2 separate regions of the Homo sapiens genome follow, and region 1 is linked to region 2. A link means that fine-mapping ties the variant in region 2 to the expression of a gene that starts in the linked region. Tissue or cell type: fibroblasts. Region 2 holds a variant in brackets; the other region holds the start of a gene. All regions are shown on one strand. Distances are between the middles of the regions.

Region 1 (8,176 bases), 22 kb before region 2:
AAGTGCTGGGATTACAGGCGTGAGCCACCATGCCCGGCGGAGGGGGGCATTTTAAACTTCCACTTTACAGTGGGGAAACAGCTTCTGAAAGGTGAAGTCCTTGCCCAAGAAGCCCCAAAGCCAACAACTGGCTGAGCTGGGATTTGAATCTGGGCGGTGAGTTTCCAGTCTTCAGGCTTTTTCTCATCCCCTCCTTGGGACCCATCCGAGGGAAGCAGAACCTCTAGGAGGGGACACTGTCCCTTCTTAAATTCAAGAGCAGAGGGTGCTTCTGGGGTGGCATCAACCCCAGCCTCAGGCAAGAGACCTGCGGCCCCACCCCCCAGGGCAAGGGGATATTTTCCTGTCTGGAGACAGAAGGAAAATAAAATCCTCAGTACAGCAGGGAGGGAGGCACAGAAGGGGGCAGTTTGGATGGAGGGTTGGAGCAGGGGAGATACGGCCCCTGTCCCCGTCCCCTCCTTCCTGGCTGGTGGGGGCAGGGGCCTCAGTCCTGCCTGCCTGAGAGGACATTCCGTCCTGTTCTGTTCCAGCCCTGTTTGTCTTCCTGCCCAGAGGGTGGGGGCGAGAGGGCCTCACGGAGCTGGGGGCCCGACAGGGAACAGGGAGTGGGAACTGGCAGGGAGGTGGGGCCAGTGCCCCACCTCCCAGGCAGCTGGGCTCTGTAATCCTCTGTGGCTGGGCTGCTTCTTCCATAGAAGGAGCCAGCTGGTGGCTGCGGAGGGACCCTCCTTCCAGCTCCCAGCCTGCCCTCTGGATGTTCTACTGGGAAGTGTGGGTCTTTCCCATTACACAGACTGGGGGCTAGTTCCTCTGGCTCAGGGTTCCAATCCTGACTCTACTACTTATCAACTCCACTACTTATAAGCTACTACTTACAAGCTCCACTACTTACAAGCTGTGTGACTGCTTATAAGCTGTGTGAACGTAATCTTGCTCTGTTGCCCAGGCTGGAGTGCAGTGGCTTGATCTTGGCTCACTGTCACCTCTGCCTCCCAGTTTCAAGCGATTCTCCTGCCTCAGCTTCCTGAGTAGCTGGGATTACAGGCTCCTGCCACCATGCCTGGGTAATTTTTGTATTTTTAGTAGAGACAGGGTTTCACTATGTTGGCCAGGCTGGTCTCGAACTCCTGACCTCAGGTGATCTGTCTGCCTCGGACTCCCAAAATGTTGGGATTACAGGCATGAGCCACCGCGCCCGGCCAAGGTTAGACTTACTGTTCTCCCTCTGTGCGTATCAGAGATGGAAAGCATGGGCTTAGGAGCTTCTTGGGCTTTACAGTAACCTGTGGATTACTCTACACGCCCCATAGTGTGGTGTGTGCATGCAATTACATACATGGTTTTTACACAAGCATCTTAAAAGGAGGATTAAATAACAGTGATACTGTAATAATGATAGCATTGGTGTGTTGAACACTCACGGAGCTAGAGAACCCATTAAGTCCTTACTACTACCCTATTGAGCAGGAGAAGTGATCTCTCCTTTTAAAGAGGCAGAAACTGAGATTTGGAGCAATGGCATCCCCAGCCCAAGTAACCCAGCGCCCTCCATTGACACTGAACTATGTTCAACCACTTCTCAGTGAATCCGACCATGTTCCTGCAATGACTTTCCCCATTTTCCGGATGAGGAAGCAGGCCCAAAGAGGTGATGAAACTGAAGCCACACAGCTTTTAGTAGCAGAGACAGGATTCAAGCCAGGTCTGTCTACTCTGACTTGAGCTCAGTTTGTGGCACACCTGTTGGGTGTCCCGCCCCCCACCGTCTGCTTCCTCACTACTGGCTCCTCATCTTGATCTGGGGTGGTGGAAAGGGAGTGTGATACCCAGTTTTCTTTTTTTTTTCTATTTTTCTATTTTTTTTTTTTTTGCGACAAGGTCCGGCTGTGTTGTCCAGGCTGGAGTGCAGTGGCCTGATCTTGGCTCATTACAACCTCTGCCTCAGGCTCAAGCCATCCTCCCACCTCAGCCTCCTGAGTAGCTGGGACTACAGACACTCACCACCATGCCTGGCTAATTTGCTTACTTCTAGTATAGATGAGATTTTGCCATGTTGCCCAGGCTGGTCTTGAACTCAAGCAATCCGCCCACCTCAGCCTCCCAAAGTGCTGGAATAACAGGCCTGAGCCACCGCACCCGGCCTGCCCGTATTTCCAGGATCTGAAAGTGAGGCTCAGAGCGGCAGTCACTGACACAATTCCACACCACCAGGAAGTGGGTGAGATGGGATTTGAACCCTGTCTTTGGGCCCTGTGCTCTTGGCAGGTGTGGCCCCCACCCAAGAGGCCCCTGCCCCACCCCTCTTTTGCCTAGCAGCCTCGGTCCCTTCCCCCGTCACACCCCTGCTGCCTCCAGATCGCCCCAGCTGGCCCCATGCCCAGCCCTGGTCCAGCCCCCTGGCACTCTGCCCAGCTTGGGACGTGCAGCTGGAACCCTGCCACCCTTCCTCCGTGTTCCAGCCAAGAACAGGGGGTGGGGCCAGGGCCTGGCGGGCTCAGGGTGAGGCCTGAGAATGGGGGTTGGGGCCCAGTGCCCCCCTCCAACCAGGAAGGAGAGAAGTTCACCTCTTCCCTGCCCTGAAGAATTTGCCACCCATGAGGAAGGCATAATAAAAGCAGGCAGTCCCTGCCCACATTCAGGGCTACTTCTGGGCTTTTCTATTCTGACACCCAGCTGGGTATTGGGGGGGGGCGTCTTACGAAAAGCACAGAGGATTTGGTGGGTGGGGGTTTAGGTTGTAGCTGGGCAAGGATGCCTTTTGGCATTGCAGAGAGGTGTCCTGAGAGACCAGAGGCAGGGTTTGGGTTTGCAAAGGGACTTGGCATGGGGGTCTGGGGGAGTCTCTCTGCCCCCCGACTCTGCCTGTTCTCAAGGACATGGTAATCTGGTAGGGTGCTGGTCCCCAAAATCCTATCTTCTCCGGGAATACTACCTCACTGGGCACTCTGGGCTGCAAGCCGTACCCACCAGGGACTTCCCAAGAGCATCCTTGGCCACAGTGGGATGGCAGCCAGCCCCAGCTAGAGGAAGGGAAGGGGGAAAGGAGGTGTTGGGGGCCCACTCACCATCGCCCAGGCCCCCGTTGGCTGAAGGGCCATCCAGGGGGTGCAGGAGGGGATGCGGTGCAGCCAGGACCCGGGTGCGAGTTACGAGTGGGTGCGCACGGCGGTGAGATGACTCCACAGGAAAGGGCCGGCCTTGGGTGGGGAGGGGGGGCACCCGAGCTCAGCCAAGAGGGGCCCCCACCCAGCCAGGAGGGGGCGCTGAGAGGGGCGGAACGACAGCTGGCCCAAAAGGGGTGGGATAGAGTTCCTTGTTAGGCCCAGAGCCAGGGCCTGGAATAGAGTAGGGGACAGGGGAGAGGATGGGGGCGGTTAGAAACATGGGGTGTGCATGGATCCAATCAGGCCTGAGAAGCCAGGGAGGAGGGAAGGGGGTGAGGCTTACTGGGTGCCTCACATTGGACAGGGAAAGCTGAGGACCTAGAACATTTTCCAGGGTCCCATGGGAACATGGCCAGATAAAACCCCCCGGCAGCGGCCCCAGGGCACAGGTTCCCCTGTGTTCCAGCAGAGCTGCACCTGCTGGGCAAGTGAACCCAGAAACCCACCCTCTGCCCGGGATGACCCCATCTGAGTACTGCGGCAGGGGGCGTTCCCATCACAGCCTGCAGGCTCACAGCACCCTGCCATGGAGTCTCCCCAAAATAAAGCTTGGATGAGGCTCCCCTGTCTCTCAGGATGGGGGTGCAGGGGTGAGATGAGGGGCTGGACTTTGGGAAGTGGGTCCAGCTTGTTTCCCTGTTATTTAAGGGGGTGACTCTGGCTTTTGAAAGGATACAAAAAGTCTCTTGGGAAGGGTCCCAGACGGCTTCTGAAAGGGGCTCCCCTCTGCCCATTTCTAGGGAAACCCAATGTTTAGGAGACTGTGTCAGGAAGCATACTATTAGAGGAGATCTCTCCTCTCTTGAACTCAGGAGCTGAATGCCATTCCAAGGGACTCCCTATATGTGGGAAGGCTCCATTTAGGGGTATCCCATATCACCTAGGATCCCAGGCACCTGGTGGCAAAGAATACCCTCAATTTTGGGGGGTTCAGAGGCCAGAGGGATCAATATGTGGAGGGCGAATATCTCCCGCAGAAGCCTGGGGACTGCTCAAATGCAATCACCCCTAATTTATCAGGAATCCCAAGTTCCACCCCCAACCAGGAGGGTAAATGAGCCTTGGGTAGCGAGAAATCGGGAACCCCGAAGCCGCTCTTGGCCAGAGGGGCGGGGCAGCCAGAGACGTAGGGAATCCCCCACCCCTGCAGTCCCTAAGGGTGGAGAGTGCGGTGGGGATGTGCCTCCAACTGCGCGCCCCGGGGCGTTCTTGGCTCGCACCCGCGAACCCCACCCCCCCCAACAATCCAGCTCAGGGGTCTCCAGGAGGAGAGCCCCCCAATTCCCAGAACTCCTGCCCCCGAACTTCAGTACCTTGCGCGCTGCAGCCCCAGCGCCATGGCTCGCCAGTCGCCGCTCCGGAGCCCTCGGAGGCCCCTAGCCCCCTCCCCGGCCTTGCGAGCCCCCTCCCCAGCTCCTCCCCACGCCGCGCGGTTGGCTGTGCCACGCCAGGCCTGAGGCTCTGATTGGGCAACGGTATGTCACTCCTGAAAAGGAGGCGGAACCAGAGGGAAAGACTTGGAAAGGCAAGGGGGGGATACCGTGTAATACACACCCCCCAACCACGCCCCTCGCCGCGGACTTCCTCGGCAGTGTATCCCGCACCGTCGGCTGAACGCGCCTTCTCTAGTCCAGCCTCTGAAGTGCCAACGCCAGTACTCTTCTGAACCCACTCAGTTCACTCTGCTCTCTGGACCCCAGTCCCCAGCCTCTAACCCCCACCTCTTCTCACCTTTCCATTTCCTAACCCCAGTTGAGCCCCTCTGACCTCCAATCCCACCCCTTCCAAACCCCTAGCCCTGCCTTCTCTATCCCTTCTAAGGTATTCACAGAGTACCCCACATCTCCTCCCCACCCCCCAACTCCCAACCCCACCCCAGTTCCACAATCCTTGGCCCTCTGGCACCTACCCTTCTCTCTCTCTCCCCAGCCCCTCCCTGCCACCCCAGTCCCATACCCCACTTCGCCCCCATTCCTCCAGTCTGCACCCTCTGCACCCCAGCTTACCTTCCCTACCCCCTCTACTCCACCCTAACCTCTTGGCCTCTCTGACTCCCTTTTCAGGTTCCCATTGATGAATAATTAAGCTTATGTCAAGTAAATATGTTTTAACTCAATCACACCTACTTCAAAAAAGAGCCGAGAAATGTATTTTTTTTTAACTAGTCGACTATGAAGGGAGAAGTACAAAGGTACCAAGCAAGGGTGAAAGCATTACAGTTGGATAAGGAACAGAGTGTGTGTGTGTGTGTGTGTGTGTGTGTGTGTTGGACCACTATTCTGGATTTGGTTGGCAGGGAAGAGGATACTACAGCAGAAGTGGCCTTGTTGAACCTTGAACTTGCCAGGCAAGTTGCTCACCTTAGGGCCTTTGCACTTGCTGTTCCCACAGCTTAGCACACTCTTCCTCCAGGAATCCACACGGCTCCCCGGCTCACGCCAGTTCCCCACTCTGTTTTCTTTTGGGAAACCACTTCTCTGTCCTCTTCATCTATTTAATTTGAATAGGGCTTGGCCACTGCTCTGCCTTCACCAGCTCCAGGGATGGACATAGGATCCAAACCTGGCTAATCAGTTGAGTCTGCTTCCCTGGCCACAGTGATTGGTTCAGGGAAGGCATGTTACCTAATTTAGCCCAATGAGAATCAACCCTGAGACATTTGCTGAAACCATTAGGAAAGAGGATTTTCTATGTCTGCTGGAATTGCTGGGCAGATGGAGCAGATGGGGCTCACACTGCCACAAAGAGAGGAGAGGCTTTATGAGATGAGGTTCAGTGCAAAAGAGATTGTGCAGAAATGAACGATTGTGAAAGGCAGTTTTGACACCAGCACTTGAGTGCCTGGATCCAGCCATACCTGAACTCCAGTTTAATTCTTGGATTTTTCAAATGAAACCCACAATGGGCTTTTTTTTTTTTTTTTTTTTTTTTTTGCTGTTGCTTTTGTCAAATATTGCTTCATTCACTATTGCCTTATTTGCTTTGTGCTTAGATTCGTTTGAATGGATTTTAGATACTTGCACCCAAAAGAATCTTGATAGAGAAATCAGCTTTCAACCCTCAGTGTAGAGGCAGGTGGGATGTTAGAAAAGGAGCAGTCTGAATTATAAAGGGGGGCCGGCCATGGTGGCTCACGACTGTAATCCCAGCACTTTGGGAGGCTGAGGCGGGCAGATCACCTGAGGTCAGGAGTTCAAGACCAGCCTGGCCAACATGGTGAAACCCCATCTCTACTAAAAATACAAAAATTAGCCGGGTGTGGTGGCACACCCTTGTAATCCCAGCTACTCGGGAGGCTGAGGCAGGAGAATCGCTTGAACCCAGGAGGCAGAGGTTGCAGTGAGCCAAGATCATGCCATTGCACTCCAGCCTGAGTGACAGAGTAAGACTCTGTCTCTAAATAAATAAATAAATAAATAAATAGTAGAAGGGGCTGCAGAGGAAGCATTGTTCTTAGAGCTTCTTAGGGTTTAGGTAAGGACATGGGGTAGAAGAGATGTTCAAGGGAGAAACTGAGGAAGGGGAGTGGTTGTTAACAAGACAACGAGAGTTCCAGTGGGTGTGTTGGAAGAGTTTGGAGGGGGCAGTAGTTGGATGATAGATTCAGTGGAAGAACTCATTGATTTTGGTATGAGGGAGTCACAGCAGAGAGCCAATCGGAGGGATTTACAGTGCCCAAGAAAAGCTGGCACTATTTCAACAAACATTAAAATAGAACTAACACTTTACACACAGAGATGCAACAGGTGTCTCTCTACGATGTAGGTTAGCGTTAAACTTCGCTCAGAGGTTCCCAGCAGCTAAGGCAATAAGGGAAATGTGTCCGTTAAAATGATTTCCAACTTTTGCTAAAGGATATGTTCTTGTTTGAAGAGACAAGTTTTGTACCTGGAACTGAAGTTAAGTGGGAATTTAAGACCTTTTAATATTAAATTGTAGAGTGGTCTGAACTGCCAGGAACTGTGGGAGCTTGGTGGAAGCACCTTACCCACCCTGTCGGGGCTGTCAGAAAGGTTTATTGTGGAAGGGGCATTTGGATGCAGACTTAAGAAGGAATAACAGTGAGGCAAGCAGAGAGAGGGTTGGGGACAGCCGAGTGCAGTGGCTCTCAACTGTAATCTCAATGACTCAGGAGGCTGAAGGGGGAGGATCGTTTGAGGCCAGGAGTTTGAGACCAGCCTGGGCAACATAGCAAGATCCCATCTCTTAATTTTTATTTTATTTATGTATGTATTTATTTATTTTTTGAGACTGAGTGTTGCTCTTGTCGCCTAGGCTGGAGTTCATTGGTGCGATTTGGCTCACTGCAACCTCTGCCTCCCAGGTTCAAGCAATTCTCCTGCCTTGGCCTCCTTAGTAGCTGGGATTACAGGCATCTGACATCACGCCTGGCTAATTTTTGTATTTTTAGTAGAGATGGGGTTTCACCATGTTGGCCAAAATGGTCTCAAAATCCAGACCTCAGGTGATCCGCCCATCTCAACCTCCCAAAGAGCTGGGATTAGAGGCATGAGCCACTGCACCCGGCCTCTATCTCTTTTTTTTTTTTTTTTTTTTTTTTTTTGAGACGGAGTCTCGCTCTGTCGCCCAGGCTGGACTGCGGACTGCAGTGGCGAAATCTCGGCTCACTGCAAGCTCCGCTTCCCGGGTTCACGCCATTCTCCTGCCTCAGCCTCCCGAGTAGCTGGGACTACAGGCGCCCGCTACCGCGCCCGGCTAATTTTTTGTATTTTTAGTAGAGACGGGGTTTCACCTTGTTAGCCAGGATGGTCTCGATCTCCTGACCTCATGATCCACCTGCCTCGGCCTCCCAAAGTGCTGGGATTACAGGCGTGAGCCACCGCGCCCGGCCCGGCCTCTATCTCTTAATTTTTTTTTTTAACTTTGCCAGGCATGGTGATGTGCACCTATAGTCCCAGTTACTTGGGAGGCTGAGACGGGAGGATTGCTTGAGCCCAGGAGCTGGAGGCTGCAATGAGCTATGATTGTGCCACTGCACTCCAGTCTGG
Region 2 (8,176 bases):
AGAGAAAGGTGGGAGTTGTCTCAGTTCTTCTCATGAGATGTATTTATTTATTTATTTTGACACGGAGTCTAGCTCCAGGCTGAGTGCAGTGGCATGATCTCAGCTCACTGCAACCTCTGTCTCCTGGGTTCAAGCGATTTTCCTGCCTGAGCATCCCGAGCGGCTGGGATTACAGGTGCGTGCCACCACGCCTGGATAATTTTTGTATTTTTAGTAGCGACGGGGCTTTGCCATGTTGGCCAGGCTGGTCTCGAACTCCTGACCTCAGGAGTGATCCACCCACCTCGGCCTCCCAAAGTGCTGGGATTACAGACATAAGCCACTGCACCCGGCCTTTATGAGATTTAATCTTCTGGAAGTGACTGAGTGACAACATGAAGTTGATGCCTTTGAAAGAATTGATTACCTACACTTCCTGAGAGACGGGCGCATGCCATGCCATGCAGGGGAAAGCACCAGGTTCGGTCAGCAGGTGGGAGAGAGAGGGAAAGCCTAGGCCAGGGCCTTTATTGCGGTTTCCATGGGAAAGGCAAGGCAGGGAAGGGGAAACAGCTCAGGATTGGCCGCTTTGAATGATGTCAGAGACTCAAGAATGCGCGGCTGGTCTTCAGTGGTCCAGTACCTGGCCCTGAGTGATTCAGGCAGATTGATGTGTGAGGGTCAGATAGAGGAGGTGGCTGGGGTATGAACTGGGGATGGAATGGAGGGTTTGTAATATGATTTTTGTATGCCTGTAAAGGATTTCGGGGGAGATGTTAACCACTTTGGCTGTGTAGGGGCAAAGAGGGAACACATCCTCAGTCACCCTCTGAAGGTTCACTGAAAATGAAGTGACAAAAGGCAGACTAGTAGAAGAAGGCAGCATATAAATGTATTTTTAACATGCATTGCCCAGGGGACTCACAGGAGACTGATTACCCAATAACCCAATGGGGTACAGATACTTCTTAGCCTTTTTCATAGGGGAAGGGGACATGGGGGAAATATGGCAATTTGCGTGATATTCAGTGATTTTTAGGGGGAAATGAATGGCCCTAATGCTCAGACAATGGTTAGTGTCAGGCCTCTGAGCCCAAGCTAAGCCATCATATCCCCTGTGACCTGCACGTACACATCCAGATGGCGGGTTCCTGCCTTAACTGATGACATTCCACCACAAAAGAAGTGAAAATGGCCTGTTTCTGCCTTAACTGATGACATTATCTTGGGAAATTCCTTCTCTTGGCTCATCCTGGCTCAAAAGCTCCCCTACTGAGCACCTTGTGACCCCCACCCCTGCCAGCCAGAGAACAACCTCCCCCTTTGACTGTAATTTTCCTTTACATACCCAAATCTTGTAAAACGGCCCCACCCCTATCTCCGTTCCCTGACTCTCTTTTCCGACTCAGCCCGCCTGCACCCAGGTGAAGTAAACAGCCCTGTTGCTCACACAAAGCCTGTTTGGTGGTCTCTTCACACGGACGCGAGTGAAATATTTTGGTGCCATGACTCCGATCGGGGGACCTCCCTTGGGAGATCAATCCCCTGTCCTCCTGCTCTTTGTCCCGCGAGAAAGATCCACCTATGACCTCAGGTCCTCAGACTGACCAGCCCAAGGAACATCTCATCAATTTTAAATCAGGTAAGCGGTCTCTTTTTACTCTCTTCTCCAACCCCTCTCACTATCCCTCAACCTCTTTCTCCTTTCAATCTTGGCTTCACACTTCAATCTCTCCCTTCTCTTAATTTCAGTTCCTTTCCTTTTCTGGTAGAGACAAAGGAGACGCGTTTTATCCGTGAACCCAAAACTCCGGCACCAGTCACAGACTCGGGAAGACAGTCTTCCCTTGGTGTTTAATTGTGTGGGGACGCCTGCCTGATTATTCACCCACATTTCAGAGGTGTCTGACCATGTGGGGATGCCTGCCTTGGTCCTTCACCCTTAGCAGCAAGTACCACTTTTTTGGGGGGCAAGAACCCCCCAACCCCTTCTCTCCATGTCTCTACCCCTTCTCCACTTTCCTGGGGGGTAATCACCCCCCACCCCTTCTGTGTCTCTACTCTCTCTTTTCTCTGGGCTTGCCTCCTTCACTATGGGCTACCTTCCACCCTCCATTCCTCCCTCTTCTCCCTGAGCCTGTGTTCTCAAAAACTTAAAACCTCTTCAACTCACACCTGACCTAAAACCTAAACCCCTTGTTTTCTTCTGCAACACCACTTGGCCCCAATACCAACTTGACAATGGCTCTAAATGGCCAGAAAACAGCACTTTCGATTTTTCCATCCTACAAGATCTAAATAATTCTTGCCGTAAAATGGGCAAACGGTCTGAGGTGCCTGATGTCCAGGCATTCTTTTACACATCGGTCCCTCCCTAGTCTCTGTTCCCAATGCAACTCGTCCTAAATCTTCCTTCTTTCCCTGCTGCCTGTCCCTCAGTCCCAACCCCAAGCATTGCTGAGTCTTTCCTCTTTCCAATCTTCCTTTTCTACAGACCCATCTGACCTCTCCCCTTCTCCCCAAGGCTGCTCCTCACCAGGCTGAGCTAGGTCCCAATTCTTCCTCAGCCTCTGCTCCCCTACCCTACAATCCTTTTATCACCTCCCCTCCTCACACCTGGTCCGGCTTACAGTTTTGTTCTGTGACTAGCCCTCCCCCACCTGCCCAGCAATTTCCTCTTAAAAAGGTGGCTGGAGCTAAAGGCATAGTCCAGGTTAATGTTCCTTTTTCTTTATCCCAAATTGGATAGCGTTTAGGCTCTTTTTCATGAAATATAAAAACCCAGCCCAGTTCATGGCTCGTTTGACAGCAACCCTGAGATGCTTTACAGCCCTAGACCCTAGAAGGTCAAGAGGCCGTCTTATTCTCAATATACATTTTATTACCCAGTCTGCTCCTGACATTAAATAAAACTCCAAAAATTAAATTCCGGCCCTCAAACCCCGCAACAGGACTTAATTAGCCTCGCCTTCAATGTGTACAATAATAAAGTATAGGCAGCTAAGTAACAATATATTTCTGAGTTGCAATTCCTTACCTCCACTGTGAGAGAAACCCCAGCCACATCTCCAGCACGCAAGAACTCCAAATGCCTGAACCGCAGCAGCCAGGGGTTCCTCCAGAACCTCCTCCCCCAGGAACTTGCTACAAGTGCTGGAAATTTGGCCACTGGGCAAAGGAATGCCCACAGCCTGGGATTCCTCCCAAGCTCTGTTCCATCTGTGTGGGACCCCACTGAAAATCGGACTGTTCAACTCACCTGGCAGCCACTTCCAGAGCCCCTAGAACTCTGGCCCAAGGATCTCTGACTGACTCCTTCCCAGATCTTCTCGGCTTAGCAGCTGAAGACTGACACTGCCCGATCATCTCAGAAGCCTCCTGGACCGTCACAGATGCTCTAGGTAACTCTCACAGTGCACCGTAAGTCCGTCCCCTTCTTAATCAATACAGAGGCCACCCACTCCACATTACCTTCTTTCCAAGGGCCTGTTTCCCTTGCTTCCATAACTGTTGTGGGTATTGACAGCCAGGCTTCTAAACCTCTTAAAACTCCCCAACTCTGGTGCCAACTTAGAC[G/A]ATACTCTTTAAAGCACTCCTTTTAGTTATCTCCACCTGCCCAGTTCCCTTATTAGGCCGAGACACTTTAACTAAATTATCTGCTTCCCTGACTATTCCTGGGCTACAGCCACACCTCATTGCTGCCCTTTTCCCCAGTTCAAAGCCTCCTTCACATCCTCCCCTTGTATCCCCCCACCTTAACCCACAAGTATAGGACACCTCTCCTCCCTCCTTAGCGACCCATCATGCACCCCTTACCATCCCATTAAAACCTAATCACCCTTACCCCACTTAATGCCAATATCCCATCCCACAGCACGCTTTGAAAGGATTAAAGCCTGTTATCACTCTCCTGCTACAGCATGGCCTTTTAAAGCCTATAAACTCCCCTTACAATTCCCCCATTTCACCTGTCCTAAAACCAGACAAGGCTTACAGGTTAGTTCAGGATCTGTGCTTTATCAACCAAATTGTTTTGCCTATCCACCCCATGGTGCCAAACCCATATACTCTCCTATCCTCAATACCTCCCTCCACAACCCATTATTCTGGATCTCAAACATGCTTTCTTTACTCTTCCTTTGCACCCTTCATCCCAGCCTCTCTTCGCTTTCACTTGGACTGACCCTGACACCCATCAGGCTCAGCAAATTACCTGGGCTGTACTGCCGCAAGGCTTCACAGACAGCCCCCATTACTTCAGTTAAGCCCAAATTTCTTCCTCATCTGTTACCTATCTTGGCATAATTCTCATAAAAACACCCATGCTCTCCCTGCCAATCGTGTCCGACTGATCTCTCAAACCCCAACACCTTCTACAAAACAACTCCTTTCCTTCCTAGGCATGGTTGGATACTTTTGACTTTAGATACCTGGTTTTGCCATCCTAACAAAACCATTATATAAACTCACAAAAGGAAACCTAGCTGACCCCATAGATCCTAAATCCTTTCCCCACTCCTCTTTCCGTTCCTTGAAGACAGCTTTAGAGACTGCTCCTACCCTAGCTCTCCCTGACTCATCCCAACCCTTTTCATTACACACAGCCGAAGTACAGGGCTGTGCAGTCGGAATTCTTACACGAGAATTGGGACCGCGTCCTGTACCCTTTTTATCCAAACAACTTGACCTTACTGTTTTGCCTAGCCCTCATGTCTGCATGTGGCGGCCACTGCCACCCTAATACTTTTAGAGACCCTCAAAATCACAAACTCTGCTCATCTCACTCTCTATGGTTCTCATAATTTCCAAAATCTATTTTCTTCCTCACACCTGACACATATACTTTCTGCTCCCCGGCTCCTTCAGCTGTACTCACTCTTTGTTGAGTCTCCCACAATTACCGTTGTTCCTGGCCCGGACTTCAATCCGGCCTCCCACATTATTCCTGATACCACACCTGACCCCCATGACTGCATCTCTCTGATCCACCTGACATTCACCCCATTTCCCCATATTTCTTCTTTCCTGTTCCTCACCCTGGTCACACTTGGTTTATTGATGGCAGTTCCACCAGGCCTAATCGCCACACACCGGCAAAGGCAGGCTATGCTATAGTACAAGCCACTAGCCTGCCTCTTAGAACCTCTCATTTCCTTTCCATCGTGGAAATCTATCCTCAAGGAAATCACTTCTCAGTGTTCCATCTGCTGTTCTACTACTCCTCAGGGATTATTCAGGCCCCCTCCCTTCCCTACACATCAAGCTTGAGGATTTGCCCCCACCCAGGACTGGCAAATTAGCTTTACTCAACATGCCCCGAGTCAGGAAACTAAAATACGTCTTGGTCTGGGTAGACACTTTCACTGGATGGGTAGATGCCTTTACCACAGGGTCTGAGAAGGCCACCACGGTCATTTCTTCCCTTCTGTCAGACATAATTCCTTGGTTTGGCCTTCCCACCTCTATACAGTCCTATAACAGACCGGCCTTTATTAGTCAAATCACCCAAGGAGTTTCTCAGGCTCTTAGTATTCAGTGAACTGATGGTCTTTTAAAAACACACCTCACCAAACTCAGTCACCAACTTAAAAAGGACTGGACAGTACTTTTATCACTTTCCCTTCTCAGAATTCGGGCCTGTCTTCGAAATGCTGCAGGTTACAGCCCATTTGAACTCCTGTATGGACAATCCTTTTTATTAGGCCCCAGTCTCATTCCAGACACCAGACCAACTTGGACTGCGCCCCAAAAAACTTGTCATCCTTACTATCTTCTGTCTAGTCAACTCCTACTCACCGTTCTCAACTACTCATAAATGCCCTGCTCTTGTTTACACTGCTGGTTTACACTGTTTCTCCAAACCATCGCAGCGGATATCTCCTGGTGCTATCCCCAAACTGCCACTCTTAACTCCCTCTTAAAGTAAACAAATAATCTTTGCTGGCAGGGCTATGCTGAACCTCCTTAGGCACTCTCTAATTGGATGTCCTAGGTCCTCCCAATTCTTAGTCCTTTAATACCTGTTTTTCTCCTTGTCTTATTCCGTTCTTTTTTCAATTCATACAAAACCGTACCCAGGCCATCACCAATAATTCTATATGACAAATGTTTCTTCTAACAACCCCACAATATCAACTGTTACCACAAAAATCTTCCTTCAGCTTAATCTCTCCCACTCTAGGTTCCCATGCCACCCCAATCCTGCTCAAAGCAGCCCTGAGAAACATCGCCCATTATCTCTCCATACCACCCCCCAAAATTTTCACTGCCCCAACACTTCAACCCTATTTCGTTTTATTTTTCTTATTAATATAAGAAGACAGAAATGTCATGCCTCTGAGCCCAAGCTAAGCCATCATATCCCCTGTGACCTGCACGTACACATCCAGATGGCCGGTTCCTGCCTTAACTGATGACATTCCACCACAAAAGAAATGAAAATGGCCTGTTCCTGCCTTAACTGATGACATTATCTTGTGAAACTCCTTCTCCTGGCTCATCCTGGCTCAAAAGCTCCCCTATTGAGCACCTTGTGACCCCCAACTCCTGCCAGCCAGAGAACAACCTCCCCCTTTGACTGTAATTTTCCTTTACATACCCAAATCTTATAAAACAGCCCCACTCCTATCTGCATTCGCTGACTCTCTTTTCAGACTCAGCCCGCCTGCACCCAGGTGAAATAAACAGCCTTGTTGCTCACACAAAGCCTGTTTGGTGGTGTCTTCACACGGATGCGAGTGAAAGTTAGTAAATAATTTTCTTTGCCAGTTGAATAAGATGGAGAGCAGACAGTGGTTTGGGATGCAGTTTGCCTGGCTTTCAGTTGTGGTGTTTTATTTTCAGCCTTTTTCTCTGTGATGTAAGTTTTTCTTTCTCTTTTTTTTTTTTTTGAGACAGAGTTTTGTTCTTGTTGCCAAAGCTGGAGTCCAATCTCCAGTGCGATCTCAGCTCACTGCAGCCTCCGCCTCCTGGGTTCAAGTGATTCTCCTGCCTCAGCCTCCCGAGTAGCTGGGACTACAGGCGCATGCCACCACGCCTGGCTAATTTTTGTATTTTTAGTAGACACGGGGTTTCACCATGTTGGCCAGGCTAGTCTTGAACTCCTGACCTCAGGCGATCCACCCACCTCGGCCTTCCAAAGTGTGGGATTACCAGCATGAGCCACCGCACCCGGCCTTGTGATGTGAATTTTAATCTTCTAGGGTTAAGGAAATTTCAGGGAAGGCAACTGTGTTACTCTTTGGCAGGTCCAGTTTCTTGATAGATGAGGGAACTTTCTTCTTCTCCCTCCCCTCCCCTCCCCTCTCCTTCTCTCTTTCTCTCTTTCTTTCTTTCCTTCTTTCTTTCTTTCTCTCTTCTTCCTCTTCCTCTTCTTTTTTTTTGAGACAGGGTCTTGCTCTGTCACCCAGGTTGGAGCTCAGTGGTGCAATCTTGGCTCTATGCAGCCTTGATCTCCCAGGCTCAAGCGATTCTCCAACCTCAGCCTCCCAAGTAGCTGAGACTACAGGTGTGTGCCACTACACCCAACTTATTTTGTTTGTTGTGGAGACAGGGTCTCGCTGTTTCCCAGGCTGGGCTGGTCCTCAACTCCCAGGCTCAAGCGATCCTCCCACCTCAGCCTCCCAAGCAGCTGGGACCACAGGCACACTTGACCACGCCTGGTTAACTTTTAACATTTTTTGTAGAGATAGGGTCTTCCTGTGTTGCCCAGGGTCGTCTCAAACCCTGGGACTCAAATGATCCTCTGGCCTTGGCCTTCCAAAGTGCTGAGATTACAGGCATGGGCCACTGCATGTGGCCTGGTTTATTTTCTTACTTTCCAGATATGTCAGTTTTGCTTGACAGAGAGAAGCTGAGGTGGGCAGAAAAATACTCAGACTATGATTCAGAGCTGAAAGAAAATCTTGGCAAACCTCAAAGGGTGCTTCACAACAAAGATTTTCCACTTGAGGAGTCCTGCGTTTGGAAGAAATGTCCAGGTCATTGGCCAGGAAGTGCACGATCTGGTCTCCCAGGCTATGACAGATCCTGAAGGCATTACAGCTAAAGTAAAGCTAACTATGCTCTGTGGCTGACCCGTGGGTGACATGGTTTGGCTCTGTCCCCTCACCCAAATCTCATCTTGAATTGTAATCTCCAGGTGAGGAGGGAGGGACCTGGTGGGAGGGGACTGGATCAAGGGGGCAGTTTCCCCCAT

Evidence for each region. PIP is the estimated chance that this variant, and not a neighbour inherited with it, causes the effect.
Region 1: HIF3A starts here. The variant in region 2 is fine-mapped to the expression of HIF3A in fibroblasts (GTEx, PIP 0.91).

Annotation. Positions count from the first base shown.
Region 1 is chr19:46,293,407-46,301,582 of GRCh38, reverse strand. HIF3A (hypoxia inducible factor 3 subunit alpha) reads right to left here and starts at 4,541. Exons shown (of 15, transcript NM_152795.4): 1 at 4,481-4,541. The coding sequence starts at 4,506.
Region 2 is chr19:46,271,733-46,279,908 of GRCh38, reverse strand. No RefSeq gene overlaps it. Among named protein-coding and RNA genes, the nearest start is that of HIF3A, 21 kb to the left of the region's middle. RefSeq lists an enhancer at 7,996-8,176. The variant G/A (reference allele first, on the strand shown) is at 3,556.